Regions from separate parts of the Homo sapiens genome. Here region 2 is linked to region 1. Evidence: fine-mapped expression QTL. Tissue or cell type: blood mononuclear cells. Region 1 holds a variant in brackets; the other region holds the start of a gene. All regions are shown on one strand. Distances are between the middles of the regions.

What was found. PIP is the estimated chance that this variant, and not a neighbour inherited with it, causes the effect.
Region 2: it holds the start of PRRG4, and the variant in region 1 is fine-mapped to the expression of PRRG4 in blood mononuclear cells (TOPMed, PIP 0.95).

The regions. Positions count from the first base shown.
Region 1 is chr11:32,866,020-32,874,125 of GRCh38, forward strand. No RefSeq gene overlaps it. Among named protein-coding and RNA genes, the nearest start is that of QSER1, 23 kb to the right of the region's middle. The variant A/G (reference allele first, on the strand shown) is at 3,983.
Region 2 is chr11:32,826,343-32,834,432 of GRCh38, forward strand. PRRG4 (proline rich and Gla domain 4) reads left to right here and starts at 3,585. Exons shown (of 6, transcript NM_024081.6): 1 at 3,585-3,831; 2 at 4,166-4,290. The coding sequence starts at 4,188. It also overlaps a transcript of CCDC73 not described here. RefSeq lists a silencer at 3,362-3,741 and enhancers at 4,162-4,211, 4,222-4,281.

The sequences.
Region 1 (8,106 bases):
AACCCAGGAGACGGAGGTTGCAGTGAGCTGACACGGTCCTACTGCATTCCAGCCTGGGCAACAGAGTGAGACTCTGTCTCAAATTAAAAAAAAAAGAAATGATGAAAAGGATGTTACCATTGACCCCACAGAAATAAAAATAATCATCAGAAACTACCATGAACACTTATATGCACACAAACTAGAAAACCTAGAAAAGATGGATAAATTCCTGGACATATACACCCTCCCAAGACTGAACCAGGAAGAAATTGACCCCCCGAACAGACCAATAGCAAGCTCCTACATTGAATCAGGAATAAACAGCCTACCAACCAAAAAAAGCCCAGGATGAGAAGAATTTGCAGCCAAATTCTACCAGATGTATAAAGAAAAGCTGGTACCACTCCTACTAAAACTATTCCAAAAAATTGAAAAGGAGGGACTCCTCCCCAATTCATTCTATGTGGCCAGCATGATCCTGATACCAAAACCTGGCAGAGAAACACATAAATAAGAAAATTTCAGGCCAATATCCTTGATGAACATTGATTCAAAAATCCTCAACAAAATACTTGCAAGCCAAATCCAGCAGCACATCAAAAAGCTAATCCATTATGATCTAGTAGGCTTCATCCTCAGGAGGCAAATTTGGTTCAACATACACAAATCAATAAATGTGATTTAGCACATAAACAGAACTAAAGTAAAAAACCACATGATTATCTCAATAGATGTAGAAAAAGCTTTTGATAACATTCAACATCCATTCATGTTAAAAACTCTCAATGAACTACGTATTGAAGGAACATACCTCAAAATAATAAAAGCCATCTATGACAAACCCACAGCTGACATTATACCAAATGGGCAAAAGCTGGAAGTATTCCCCTTGAAAACTGGCACAAGACAAGCATTCCTCTCTCTTACTACTTCTATTCAACATAGTACTGAAAGTCCTAGCCAGCGCAATCAGGCAAGAGAAAGAAATAAAGGGCATCCAAGTAGGAAAAGAGGAAGTTAAACTATCCCTGTTTGTAGATAACATGATTCTATATGCAGAAAGCCCCATAGTCTCGGCCCAAAAGCTCCTTCAGCTGATAAACAAACAACTTCAGCAAAGTTTCAGGATACAAAATCAATGTATAAAAATCACTGGCATTCCTATACACCACCAACAGCCAAGCTGAGAACCAAATTGAGGAAGGCAATCCCATTCACAATTGCCACAAAATGAATAAAATACATAGGAATACAGCTATCCAAGGAGGTGAATGATCTGTACAATGACAATTGCAAAACATGGCTCAAAGAAATCGAAGAAGACACAAACAAATGGAAAACATCCCATGCTCATGGACAGGAAGATTCAATATCACTAAAATGGCCATACTCCCCAAAGCAATTTACAGATTCAATGCTGTTCCTATCAAACTTCCAATGACATTATTCACAGAATTAGAAAAAAACTATTTTAAAATTCATACAGAACAAAAAAAGAGCCCAAATAGCCAAAGCAATCCTAAGCAAAAAGAACAAAGCTGGAGGCATCATGTTACCCAACTTCAACCTATACTACAGGGCTACAGTAACCAAAACAGCATGGTACTGGTACAAAAGCAGACACATAGACCCAGGGAACAGAATAGAGAGTTCAGAAGCAAGGCTGCACGCTTATGACCACAAGGTCTTTGACAAAGCTGACAAAAACAAGAAATGGGAAAAAGATTCTCTATTCAATAAATGGTGCTAGGATAACTGGTTAGCTATATGCTGAAGTTTGAAGCTGGACTCCTTCCTTACACCATATACAAAAATCAACTCAAGATGGATTAAAGACTTAAATGTAAAACCCAAAACTATAAAAACCCTGGAAGGCAACCTAGGTGATACCATCCTGGACATAGGAATGGGAAAAGAGTTCATGACAAAGACACCAAAAGCAATCACAACAAAACCAAAAATTGACAAATGGGATCTAATTAAATTTAAGAGCTTCTGCACAGCAAAAGAAACTATCAACAGAGTAAACAGAGGACCTACAGAATGGGAGAAAATACTTGCAAACTATGCATCTGACAAATGTCTAATATCCAGCATCTATAAGGAACTTAAATTTACAATAGAAAAACAATCAGGCTGGGCGCAGTGGCTCACGCTTGTAATCCCAGCACTTTGGGAGGCCGAGGTGGGTGGATCACAAGGTCAGGAATTCGAGACCAGCCTGGCCAATATGGTGGAACCCTGTCTCTACTAAAAATACAAAAAGTAGCTGGGCATGGTGGCATGCACCTGTAGTCCCTGCTACTCGGGAGGCTGAGGTGGAAGAATAGCTTGAACCTGGAAGGCGGAGGTTGCAGTGAGCCGAGATTGCACCACTGCACTCCAGCCTGGGTGACAGAGCAAGACTTCATCTCAAAAAAAAAAAAAAAAAAAAAGAAAAGAGAAAAGAAAAATAATCCCATTAAAAGTGGGCAAAGGACATGAACAGACACTTTTCAAAAGAAGACATACATGTGGCCAACAAGCATATAAGAAAAAAAATATATCACTGAACATTAGAGAAATGCAAATCAAAACCGCAATGAGATACCATCTCGCACAGTCAGAATGGCTATTATTAAAAAGTCAAAAAATAACAGATGCTGGTGAGGTTGCAAAGAAAAGGGAACACTTATACACTGTTGGTGAAAATGTCAATTAGATCAACCATTGTGGAAAACAGTATGGCGATTCCTCAAAGAACTAAAAACAGAACTATTTAACCCAGCAATCTCATTCCCGGGTATATACACCCAGAGGAATATAAATCATTCTAACACAAAGACACATGCACACGAATGTTCACTGCAGCACTATTCACAAAAGTAAAGACATGGAATCAACCTAAATGCCCATCAATGATAGACTGGATGAAGAAAATGTGGTACATATACACCATGGAATACTATGCAGCCATGAAAAAGAACAAGATCATGTCTTTTGCAGGAACATGGATAGAGCTGGAGGTTATTATCCTTAGCACACTAACGCAGGAAGAGAAAACCAAATCCCACATGTTCTCACTTATAAGTGGAAGCTAAATAACTCATGAACGCAAAGAAGGGAACAACAGACACTAGGGTCTACTTGAGGGTGGAGGGTGGGAAGAAGGAAGAAGCAGAAAAAATAACTATTGTGTACTAGGCTTAATACCTGGGTGATGAAATAATCTGTACAACAAACCCCCATGACACAAGTGTACCTATATAACAAGCCTTCACATGTACCTCTGAACCTAAAAGTAAAACAATAGAGTAAAAAATAAAATAAAGTGAAAATAAAATAAAATAATGTGAGTAGAAATAAAGAACTACTTGTGATAAAATAATCCATCAATGTATGGCTCAAAATTAAAGCTTGTTTTAATATAATTTTAATGTAAGCTATGTCTCAAGATAAACTAACTGAAATTCCTTTTTTTTTTTTTTTTTCAGACGGAGTTTCACTCTTATTGCCCAGGCTGGAGTGTAATGGTGTATTCTCCGCTCACTGCAACCTCCGCCTTCCCGGTTCAAACAATTCTCCTGCCTCAGCCTCTGGAGTAGCTGGGATTACAGGCGCGAGCCACCACACCCGGCTAATTTTTGTATTTTTAGCAGAGACGGTGTTTCACCATGTTGGCCAGGCTGGTCTCAGACTCCTGACCTCAGGTGATCCGCCTGTCTTGGCCTCTCAAAGTGCTGGGATTACAGGTGTGAGCCACTGCGCCCGGCCTGAAATTCTTTTAAAAAATAATAATTAAGGCCAGGCACAGTGGCTCATGCCTGTAATCCCAGCACTTTGGGAGGCTAAGGCAGGCAGATCATGAGGTCAGGAGTTCGAGACCAGCCTGACCAACATGGTGAAACCCCATCTCTACTAAAAATACAAAAATTAGCCAGGCATCGTGGTGCGCACCTGTAATCCCAGCTACTCGGGAGGCTGAGGCAGGAGAATTGCTTGAACCCGGGAGGTAGAGGTT[A/G]CAGTGAGCTGAGATTGCCCCACTGCACTCTAGCCTGGGCAACACAGCGAGACTACATCTCAAAAAATAAAAATAAAATAAAATTTAAAAATAATAATTAGGCCGGGCGCGGTGGCTCATGCCTGTAATCCCAGCACTTTGGCAGGCCGAGGCAGGTGGATCACCAGAGGACAAGAGTTCAAGACCAGCCTGGCCAACATGGTGAAACCCCGTCTTTACTAAAAATACAAAAATTTGCTAGGTGTGGTAGCGCCTGCCTGTAATCCCAGCTACTCAGGAAGCTGAGACAGGAGAATCACTTGAACCCGGGAGGCGGAGGTTGCATTGAGCCAAGATCGCACCACTGCACTCCAGCCTGGGTGACAGAGCGAGACTCCATCTCAAAAAAAAAAAAAAAAATAATAATAATAATAATAAACTAATAAACACATAGAAACCAAAACAAATGTAACACTCCCAAACTCATTCCTGAAAAGGGGCACTGCAGAAATGTTATCAAGAATCTTATCTTACACCAAATGATACACAAGCAACCCATGCTATGTCCAAATGACACAAAAGCTCAAATAGCATAGACAGAGGATTCCCCGTGTGTGCCCTGGTTTGACTTACCCAGTCTTGGGGCCCATCAACTCCCTTGGATACCACTTGCACCACCAAAGTGTTACAGGCTGCTGATTCCATGAAGGGGACAGAAGAGAGGGTCCCCAAGACAAAAGATTTCTCAGTTGCTGCTAGGACACTCCTGGAATCCCAGCCACAGAGGCAGCTAGCCATGAGCAGCAACTAGCACTCATAAGCGGTTGCTGCTCTGCCTGATAACATGAACAGGTAAGCCCTGGTGCACTGCTGCAGCCAATTGCTCCATCCATGGAAACCAGGCAGGCTAGACCACCAGAGGGCACACAGCCCCACATTGGGTGCCAAATTTTGTAACTGAACCTATGTTTGGCTGCTTGCTGCTCAAAAACCAGACACGAGAAATGAGGGTTGGTGGGAGGAAAAGCCAGATTTATTTGGAAAGCCAGCAAAACCAAGAAGATGGTGAATTCATGTTTAAGAAATCATTGTCTACTCAAGGTTGTGAAGATTTTTTTTTTTGAGACGGAGTCTCGCTCTGTCGCCCAGGCTGGAGTGCCGTGGCGCCATCTCGGCTCACTGCAACCTCCACCTACTAGGTTCAAGCAATTCTCCTGCCTTAGCCTCCCGAGTAGCTGGGACTACAGGCACATGCTGCCACCCCTGGCTAATTTTTTTTTTTTTTGTATTTTAGTAGAGATGGGGTTTCACTGTGTTGCCCAGGCTGGTCGCGAACTCCTGAGCCCAGGCAATCTGCCCACTTCAGCCTCCCAAAGTGCTGGGATTACAGGCGTTGAGATACCGCACCCAGCCAGAAGATTTCTTTTTAATGTTTTCTTCTAGTCACTTTATAAATGCAGCTTTTACATGTAAGTCTAATTTTTATGTTTATCAGGTAAGAGCTGAAGTTCATTTTCTTCCATGCAACTATGCAGTTGTTTTAGCAACACATCTTTAAAAGGCTGTCCTTTCTCCGCTGAATTATCTTGGTACCTTTGCTGAAAATCAATTGATCACACATATGGGGTTCTGTTTTACTGATCATAGTTTATCCTTATATCAATATCATATTATCTTGATGACTGTAGCCTTGTCATAAGTCTTCAAAAGAAGTAGTCTAAGTTCTCAAACTTTGTTCTTTCCCAAAAAATTTTTGGCTATTTAATACATTTAACATTGCATACATTTTGGAATTAGCTAGTCAATTTCTAAATCAAAAGACTGCTGAAAATTTGACTAGAATTGCATTTAATTTATAGAAAAACTTACATGTATTAAACAATCCATAGTTTTTTTGTTTGTTTGTTTGTTTTTTTAGACAAAGTCTTGCTCTGTTGCCCAGGCTGGAGTGCAGCGGTGCGATCTCAGCTCACTACAACATCTGCCTCCCAGGTTCAAGTGATTCTCCTGCCTCAGCCTCCTGAGCAGCTGGAATTACAAGTGCATGCCACCATGCCCAGATAATTTTTGTACTTTTTGTAGAGACAGGGTTTCACCATGTTGGCCAGGCTGGTCTCGAACTCCTGACCTCAAATGATCTGCCTGCCTCAGCCTCCCAAAATCCTGGGATTACAGGTGTGATCCACTGTGCCCAGCCCATAGTATGTTTTCTCATGTATTAAGATCTTTTAAATTTATCTCAGCAATGTTTATAGGTTTCGGTATATAGGAGTTACGTCTATTTTGTTAAATTCATCCTTAAGTACTTAATGTCTTTTTACACTGTTCTAGATGACATCTTTAAAATTTAATTTTCCAACTTTCTTTCCAAGAGAATTCCAATTATGTTTTCAAGAGAATTGAAAACGTATGTTCACATAAAAAATTGTTTATAGCAGCATTATGCGTAATAACCAAAAAGTGGAAACTCCCAAATGTTCATCAACCTATGAGTGAATAAACAAAAAGTAGTATATACATACAAGGGGATATTATTCAGTTAGAAAAAGGAATGAAGTACTGACACATGCTACAACATTGGTAAACCTTGAAAGCATTTCAGTAAGTGAAAGAAGCCAGACACAAAAGCCCACATATATCGGGTGATTCCATTTATATGAAATGTCGGAATAAGCAAATCCATAAAAATGGAAAGTAGATTAGCCATTGACAGGAACTGTGCGGAATGGGAAATGATGAGCAAGTGCCAATAGATAAGAGGTTTTTTTTCAGGGTGATGTAAATGCTCTAGAATTAGATACTGGTGATGTTTACACAATTTTAAGTACATATTAAAAACCACTGGACGGGCACAATGGTTCATGCCTGTAATCCCAGCACTTTGGGAGGCTGAGATGGGCAGATCACGAGGTCAGAAGTTCAAGACCAGCCTGGCCAATGTGGTGAAACCCCGTCTCTACTAAAAGTACAAAAAAACTAGCCCGGCGTGATGGGGCATGCCTGTAGTCCCAGCTACTCGGGAGGCTGAGGCAGGAGAATCGCTTGAACCCAGGAGGCGGAGGTTGCAGTGAGCCGTGATTGTGCCACTGCGCTCCATCCTGGGCAACAGAGGGAGACTCCATCTCAAAAACAAAAAGCAACAAATACTGTATTGTATACTTTTAAATGGTGAGTTTTATGGTACACGAATTATACCTTGATTTTAAAAAAATTTATTTTCCAATTGCTTATTGTTAGTATATAAAAATATAATTAATATTTGGTTATTGAACTTGTATCCTACGATCTTGCTAAATTCAACTTTTAGTGCTATGGTTTGCATGTGTTCCCCCAAAAGCATGTATTGAAAACTTAATCCCCAATGCAGGAGTGTTGGCAAGTAAGAACTAATGACAGGCAATTAGGCCTTGAGGGCTCCACCCTCATGAATAAATTAGTGATGTTATTGTGGAAGTGAGTTCATTATTGTAGAAGTGGGTTCATTGTAAAATTCTCTTTCTTGCCCTCTTACCTTCTGCCATGAGATCACACAGCAAGCAGTCCCTTGCCAGCCTCTCAGTCTTGGACTTCCCAGCCACCAGAACCATGAGCCAAATAAATCTCTGTTCTTGGGCATCCTGTTACAGTAGCACAAAAAAGCAAAAATAGAAAATTGGTACCGGAGAAGTGGGGTATTGTTATAACAAATACCTGAAAATGTGGAAGTGACTTTGGAAGTGGGTAATGGGTAGAAGCTGAAGAATTTGGAGGAGAAGCCTAGAAAAAAAAAAAAACCTGTACAGAGCATTAAGGCTCAGAAGAAGAGATAGCTGTTAGGAAAGTCTGAAATTTCTTAGAGACTGCTTAAATGGTCGTGACCAGAATGTTGGTGGAAATGTGGACAGTGAAGACTATTCTGATGAGTCTCAGATGAAAATGAGGAGCAAGGTATTGGAAACTGGAAAATGGGTCATCCTTGTTATAAAGTGGCACACAAGTTAGCTGAATTGTGTCCATGCTCAAGGGCTTTATGGAAGACAGAACTTAAGAACCATGAACTAGGACATCTGGCTGAAGTAAAATCTAAGAAGCAAAGCATTATGAAGCTGCGTGGCTTCTCTTAACTATATGTGGTAAATTTAGAGTGGACACGCATGATTTAAAGA
Region 2 (8,090 bases), 40 kb before region 1:
GCTAATGATAGTCATCGATGTGCCTTTAAGGATGTGGAGGTGACTTTACTTACAGAGCTTCATGGCTGCAATCTTAACATCTCCTGTCACAGTCCTTGAGTCCATCCTCATGCCCACACAGTAAAGTGAGTTTTCATTTCATTCTTGAATTCACACAGGTAAGTGGGCGGGTATGTGCTCAAATTCAGAGATGCATTATCACATTAATCCAAGTCCATTAATCTCATTGCTCCAATTTTTTTTCTTATTCCCTCTGAACTAAATAATTCTTTACCTACTGCCCTTTATTGCTTGATAATAACTCAAAAAAAAAAAAACAAAAAAAAAAACCCAGAGTCAAGAACCAAGCTACTACTTGGCCGATGACTATTCATTTACTTCATGCTTCAATATCCCTCTTTGTAAAATGAGAATTATAATATCTAGCCCAACTCCACAGATAGCCAGTATAAGAAAAATACCATCTGTGAGAACACTTAAAATGCTTTGGAAGAAAGGCATAAGAATATTATAACATTATTATTATTATAATTATTGAGATGGAGTTTCACTCTTGTTGCCCAGGCTGGAGGGCAATGGCGCGATCTCGGCTCACTGCAACCTCTGCCTCCTGGGTTCAAGCGATTCTCCCGCCTCAGCCTCCCGAGTAGCTGGACTTACAGGTGCCTGCCACCATGCCTGGCTAATTTTTTTTTGTATTTTTAGTAGAGACGGGGTTTCACTGTGTTGGCCAGGCTGGTCTCAAACTGCTGACCTCATGATCTGCCCGCCTAGGCCTCCCAAAGTGCTGAGGTTACAGGTGTGAGCCACCGTGCCCGACCAAGAATATTATAACTTTAAATAGCAGATGGCACAAAATAAAATTAATACAGCAAGGAAATAATAGAAGAAATCAGCTCTCTTGGGCATTGTTGTTACTGGCTTTTCTCATTTCTCTCTTTGCCATCTAACCTCAAAATATCTTGCAGCTCCGTAGTGACTGAAGTTTGTGTGCATGCTGCCAAATGCTGTAACATTCTCTAGGACTCAATGTTACAGGGAAACACACAGGGATGTAATTCACTACTGAGAAACAGACTTCATTTCTCTGTCTGCCTCCCTCTCTGTCTATAAACTCTGATATTTGATGTCAGCACAAGGCCTCATTTGTTTTGGTCCAAATATCCAGATATGTGGGCAGACTCATTTTACCAAGGAATGTCATCAAAGTTCACAACTGCTGATTCCATAGCATGAGGCATTTGACCATTGGCCTCTCCCCAAAGTAGTGGGAAATGAAGCACTTTTCCTACCTGAAGATAAATTGCTTCCACTCCATGAAAATGTATTCAGCACGAACAATGTAGAAAGCACTCCCCTGGGTACTGTCGAGAATGCAAAAATGAATAAGTCAGTTCTTGCACTTGATAAGAACTTTACAGGCCCACATTCTCAGATATAGGTCTCAGTCAGATTAAGTTCTCCTCCACAACAGAAGCTGTGGTGTCCATCTCCCCACCAGGAGGTCTCAGTGCTGTAGGTTGACTCAATGAATAAACAGGAAAATGGGTGTTCTAGTGAAAATGTTTCCTATTCTTGTGTTCAACCACAATAAACCATGTCTGGCCTCTTCATAGTCTGATCCCAATTGCTTGAATAAGAGGGAAAGAAGAATCCATCATAGAAATAGTTTAGACCACGAGGTAGACAAATGGAAAGTGAAGAGGAAGGGATTGGAAGAAGGGAAAGGAAAAGCACTGCCTAGAAGGAATCAGTGAAAACAAAATTTCTGCAGAAAACTTAGGAATAATTCAGTTGATTATCAATAATAATAATAAAATAGACAATATCCTTTGGGAGGAGAAAAACAGAATTTGGTAAAAATTGAATTAGTCAAAAATTTGAGGCCGGGCACAGTGGCTCATGCCTGTAATCCCAGCACTTTGGGAGGCCGAGGTAGGTGGATCACCTGAGGTCAGGAGTTTGAGAACAACCTGGCCAACATGGTGAAAACCCCTCTCTCCTAAATGTACAAAAAATTAGCCGGGCGTGGTGGTGGATGCCTGTAATCCCAGCTACTCGGAAGGCTGAGGCAGGAGAATCGCTTGAACCCAGGAGGCGAAGGTTACAGTAAGCCAAGATTGTGCCACTGTACTCCAGCCTGGGTGACAGAGCAAGACTCTGTCTCAAGAAAAAAAAAAAAAAAATGAAGGGGGAAAAAATGTTTCCCTTGGTCCCCAGCAAGTGCCAGACCACTTCGACCAAAGCATAAATAGTGTTTCAAAGAACTGTTAAGCACGTTCTTTGGATAAAGAAGGATGTGACCATCACCTGGCATAGGTACTCTGTCCACCTGCTGCCTTCATTACTTGATGCAGCAGTTTTTGAAGTCTTTAATCAAGACCTTTTTACGCTCTTTTACATTATCAAGGACCCCAAAGAGCTTTCACTTATGTGAATTTTATCTAATGATATTTATTATCTAACATTAAAACTGAGAAATTTTCAAAATATTATTTGAAATCAAGACAACAAAGCTTACTTTTTGTTATGTTTATGCATAGACTCAAGGAAAAGATCAAGATTTCAAGATAATTACTTCAGAAAAATGAGGTTATAGCTATCCTAGTAGATATGAACAAATAGAACTAATCAAAGTACAAAAGCAGTAGCCAAGAGAGTTGGTGGACACCTGTAGTCCCAGCTACTCTGGAGGATGAGACAGGAGGATCTCTTGAGCCCAGGAGTTCCTGGGCAACAAAGTGAGACCCCCTACTCTGAAAAAGAAAAAAGGAAAGAAAAAAAATTAAGTTCACAAGTACTGAGAACAAATTTTATTAATCTCTATAAATCTACATAAATCTCTATAAAATGTACATACTGATAATGTAAACATACTACTATGGAAAATACCAGAAAATACAAGCACGCTCACTCAGGTATTCTATTAGGAGACAGAATGATGACGTTATTACACTTCAAATAGCCCCTGGAAATTTCCACTGTACACTCTTGAGAGAATGAAAGTGAAAATGGCAAATCATTTATTGTTACTATAATGGAAATAGTTTTGCCCTCAGAGACCCCTGGAAAAGATCTTGGAGACATCCCAGACCTGGCGGACCACCATTGGAGAACCAATGTAATCAATTACTTGTAAGGTCATTTCCATTTCTTATCACGAATAAAGGGTATTTTGTCTGATGAATATCTTGTCCTCGTCCCCGGACCACCCTTTTGAGAACAGTTGACCTAAGGTAACCACAGGACTCCTGGCCCAGTGGGACCCAAAGCGAAAAGCCCTGGACGCGCCGAGGGCGCTCTGCTTAAGACTGAGAACCGAAATGCTTCCTGAATTAGGATCATTGAGAACGCCGAGTGCAGACACAAATCGAAAAGCAGCCACCCGCGCCGCCAAGGCGGGGCCAGAACTGGCGGCAGGCGGCTGGCCCGCCCGGGGATGGGGCAGAAGCTGGGGCGGCTGAGAGCGCAGCGCGGGCTCCCGGGAGACGCCGGCCCACTGCCCGCCCGCTCGCCGCAGGTAGGCCCGGCCCCCGGGAGGTGGGGCGCGGCCAGGTGTCCCCAGGTAGCCGCCTCCTCCCGTCCTCCGTCGGCCGCCTCCCCGGACCGAGGCAGGACCTCACCCCGCGCGTGTTCCCCGGGCGCCCCTCTGCGAACCCCAGGCCCTTCCCAGGTTTGCGCGCGGGGGCCATCCAGACCCTGCGGAGAGCGAGGCCCGGAGCGTCGCCGAGGTTTGAGGGCGCCGGAGACCGAGGGCCTGGCGGCCGAAGGAACCGCCCCAAGAAGAGCCTCTGGCCCGGGGGCTGCTGGAACATGTGCGGGGGGACACAGGTACGAGGCCTGGCGGCAGGACCTCGGCGGGGAGGGGGTTACCTGGAAGGGGCCACCTCGGCGGACTGGGTTGGATTCGAACACATAGCGAGGGTTGCCCGCGGCGACAGGTGCCCGATCAGCCCTCGGCAGGGTCACTGGGCACGGCGTTTGTCCCAGGCGCTCTCAGGGGCTGCTTCCTGGGCGCGCGTCGGGTTCCGGCGACCGAAACCGCGCGCCGGGCGCTCTTGCGCCTAGGCTTTGAGTACAACAGGTTGGTGATTCAGTTCGACAGAAACTCAAAGTGCTGAGCTAGGGGCCTTTTTTTTTTAATATTTTTTTTTGTTTGTTTTAGTTTGTTTGACAGTTGCCAGACTATGTTTACGCTTCTGGTTCTACTCAGCCAACTGCCCACAGTTACCCTGGGGTTTCCTCATTGCGCAAGAGGTCCAAAGGCTTCTAAGCATGCGGGAGAAGAAGGTAAGCACTAAAACGTCCCTGGAACCCAGAGCCGCATAGCACAGATCTCAGTGAGAAAGTGCAGTATTTGAAATTACATACCCCCAGCAATCATAGAAACACTAAAATATCCTTTAGTTTAATTTGTGGCATATTTGGCAAGGTTGTGTTTTTTTATGTTCTTTAACTGCAATTTATAGAATTTGATGTCTGTGAGTCTCCTTTAATAAGTATATACGTAAGACCTAGTTTGTGGTTAATTGAATGGAAAACCTATTTCAGCTTCTGAAAATCAGTGAGTGACATTTCTCTAGATGAAGCTGTGTGGCGATTATAATAAGCATAATTACTTGTTCTTCCTGGAGAGGCGAACGGGGAGTCCAGGATCTAGTCTGGACTTGCGAGACCCTGGGCGAGATAACTTAATCCCGTTTGGCTTGAATGTCTTCATCTGTAAAAGTGATGCGGGTGGGGCGTAAAATGATCTCTGAGGTCCTTTTTGACTTCAGATGGTCTAGTTGTCTAGATAAAAGCAGCTAGTTGAGAAAAGATTAGGTTTGGGGCTTGCTAACCTGGAAGTCCACAGTTTTTAGGTTTCAGATCATTAACAGTTTGTTTCCTGCCTATATCTTAAAAGCCTAACCTAGTAAAACCAGAAGAAAAAAAAAGCCTCTGTCTCTCAGCATCCTTCTCCCTGACTATTCATGGTGCTTCCCCACTCAGTGTCAGTACTCTGGATCCACGTCCCCACACATTCCTGTCTCTTATCCCTTCTCATCAGATCCGATTCTCAGCTCATTTTCATTTGGGAAGGATCTGTTACACTAGTACTCCTAACTGACTTTATTAATGATTAATACAGCTGTGTTTGTGTGTGTTGAGCTAGAACAATCCATTAACCCAAAGGCGTGAAACTCTGATGACAGAATTCTAGCAACTGGATAGGCTAGCTAGAGAGAGAGGGAGAGATTTTGGAAGAGGATCCTTTTTAGTCCCTCTCAAGCTGCACCATATATGTAAGTCCACTTAGAAGGTTGCACTTATAAGGTTCCATAATCAGATGCTCTTCCCTAAAATGATTGTGAGTGCAATCATTCATTCACATGACACGGGTATAAGAGACACTCTCGCCGGCACGGTGGCTCACACCTGTAATCCTAGCACTTTGGGAGGCCGAGGCAGGTGGATCACCTGCGGTCAGGAGTTCGAGACCAGCCTGGCCAACATGGTGAAACCCCGTCTCTACTAAATATACAAAAATTAGCCTGGCTTGGTGGCACGTGCCTATAATCCCAGCTACCCGGGAGGCAGAGGCTGCAGTGAGCTGAGATCGTGCCACTGCACTCCAGCCTGGGCGACAGAGTGAGACTCCATCTCAAAAAATAAAAATAAAAGCAAATAAATAAATAAATAAATAAAAGACAGTCTCAAGGACACCACAAGCTATGGAAGGAATTTAGAGATCATACTTGAGTGTGGAGGGCTGGAGATGTCTGTGGAAATGTGAATGAGGGATCCGACACATTTGAAAAGACAACTTGTTCAGTCAGTCACCACTTGATGAACACATGCTAAGTGCCAGGCCCCGTGCTGTGTGGTGGAGACATAGAAATGAAAGACTGCAATCTCTGCCCTGGAGGACATCTTCATCTGTGTGGGAGGCAGGGTGTTTGTTAAACAGACGATCTCCATCAACTGTATAACAGAAGCCAGAACACAGAACTGAGAGCAGAGGAAAGAGTGAGTAGCAGTAACTCTGCCTCAAGAGAGTTGTATGGCAGAGAAGCCAATGCCTTCCATCTGCAAATGGGCTATAATAAATGGAGATATGAAAAGTAACTGGAAATAAAGGACCTTTGGTGAAATTCTTTTTTTTTTTTTTTTTTTCAGACAGAGTCTCGCTCTGTCTCCCAGGCTGGAGTGCAGTGGCGTGATCACGGCTCACTGCAACCTCCACCTCCTGGGTTCAAGCAATTCTCCTGCTTCAGCCTCCCGAGTAGCTGGGATTACAGGTGCGCACCACTGTCCCAGCTAATTTATTTTGTATTTTTAGTAGAGACGGGGTTTCACCATGTTAGCCAGGCTGGTCTTGAACTCCTGACCTCAGGTGATCCTCCCACCTCGGCCTCCCGAAGGGCTGGGATTACAGGCGTGAGCTACCGCGCCTGGCCCTAAAATCTGATAAAGCATGACGGTAGAGTTGAAATGACTGAAAAGGAGCTATTTAGAAAACATGAGGAGATAGAAGTGAGGAGAAGAACGGAATATCTGGGTTGGTGAATTTATAGCAGTGAAATGCATGGACAGCCTCTTAGGATAGTCTAAGACAGGAAAAATAGAGAAGGGTAGAGAATCTAAGGAAGCAGAGCCAAGGCCATTGCATCCTCCAGCCATGGTCAAGGGGAAAATAGGAGCTCTTGCTAAAAGCCAAGGGTGTTTCAAGGGCAGGGAAGTTTGCTTCCTTTCAATTAAAAGCAAGTTCAGGGTTACTTAGAATCCAGTAACAAAAGACAATATTTCTCCTGAGATCCTAAGGGATGCAGGGAAAAATTTGATCTGGCACCAAAAGTCAGTCAGTGACAGAATCAGAACTTGCACACTCAGGGAAGTGGCAAGCAGCAGCCCCTGGAAGGCGGATTTAATACAGTGTTAATCATAATAGCATGATTAATCATAAATATCATATTTATGATATTGGCATAAATATTATTTCAGGAAAAATAAAAATGTTTGTGGCTCTCCCTTTTTCTGTTTCCTCTATCAAAGTAGCTTTTGAGTTCCATGGGGTTGTATTTTTAATAACTCAACCTACTGGAACAGAAGACTGTCATGAGAAATTTGGCACTGCTCTTTTTAGCCAATAAAATGTAAGGATCTGGACATATTTGAGAAGTATACAGAGGCAGATATCTAATTCTCCATTCTGAACTTAGATTTCATGCAGTAAGTATAGCTAAGTGAGGCAGGCTATGGGTTGCTTAATCAATAGTTTTATACTTTAAACCTATGCCGAGCTGAGAAACACCAGACTATACCTATGAATTGCTTCAACTGGTAGACTTTAGGTCCAAGAGTTTCCTCCCACTATAGCAAAGTTGAGTTTGTTCATTCAGTCAGTAATTTTTTGAGCACCTCTTATGGGCCAAGAACCAACATCCCTGCTTTAATGGAGCTTTTCTTCTAGTGAGGAGAACAGAGTGGTAACAAATAAGTAAAGCATATAGAAAACCAGATGGTGATGAGTACTATGGAGAAAGGCAGAGTGTGGACAGGGAGTGCCAGGGGTGGGTAGGGATGGGGTTTCAAGGTAGCATTGAACAAAATCCTGAAGGATGTGAGAGAGCAAACTGAAAGAAGAAAGTTCTGTTCAGAAGAAACAGTAAGTACAAAGGCCAGAGAGAACCAGGTGTGTTGGAAGCCAGCATAGCTACAACAGAATACGTGAGGGATAGTGGTGGGAGATGAGGTTAGAGAGGTAAGGGCTTGGGGACCAGACAGAGAAGGGCCTTGTAAGCCACTGTAATGACTTTGGCTCTTACTCTGCAGGGGGTGGAATTGCTGTTAGAAGGTTTTTAAAAAGCAAAGTAGGAACAGTCTATCTTGTCTTTTAAAGGGCCCTCTTTGGCTGTTATGTTAAAAACAGATGGTAGAGCAGCAAGGAGACCCATGGAAGACCATTGTAGGAATCCCAGTGAGGGGTGATGGAGGCTTGGAAAATTTTTCATTCTATGTCCATTTGGTGGTAATATAAAATCTACAAGAAGACAAAGGAGGAAACAGAATAGAAATATTTCATCACACTAGCCCCTCTATCTACCTTT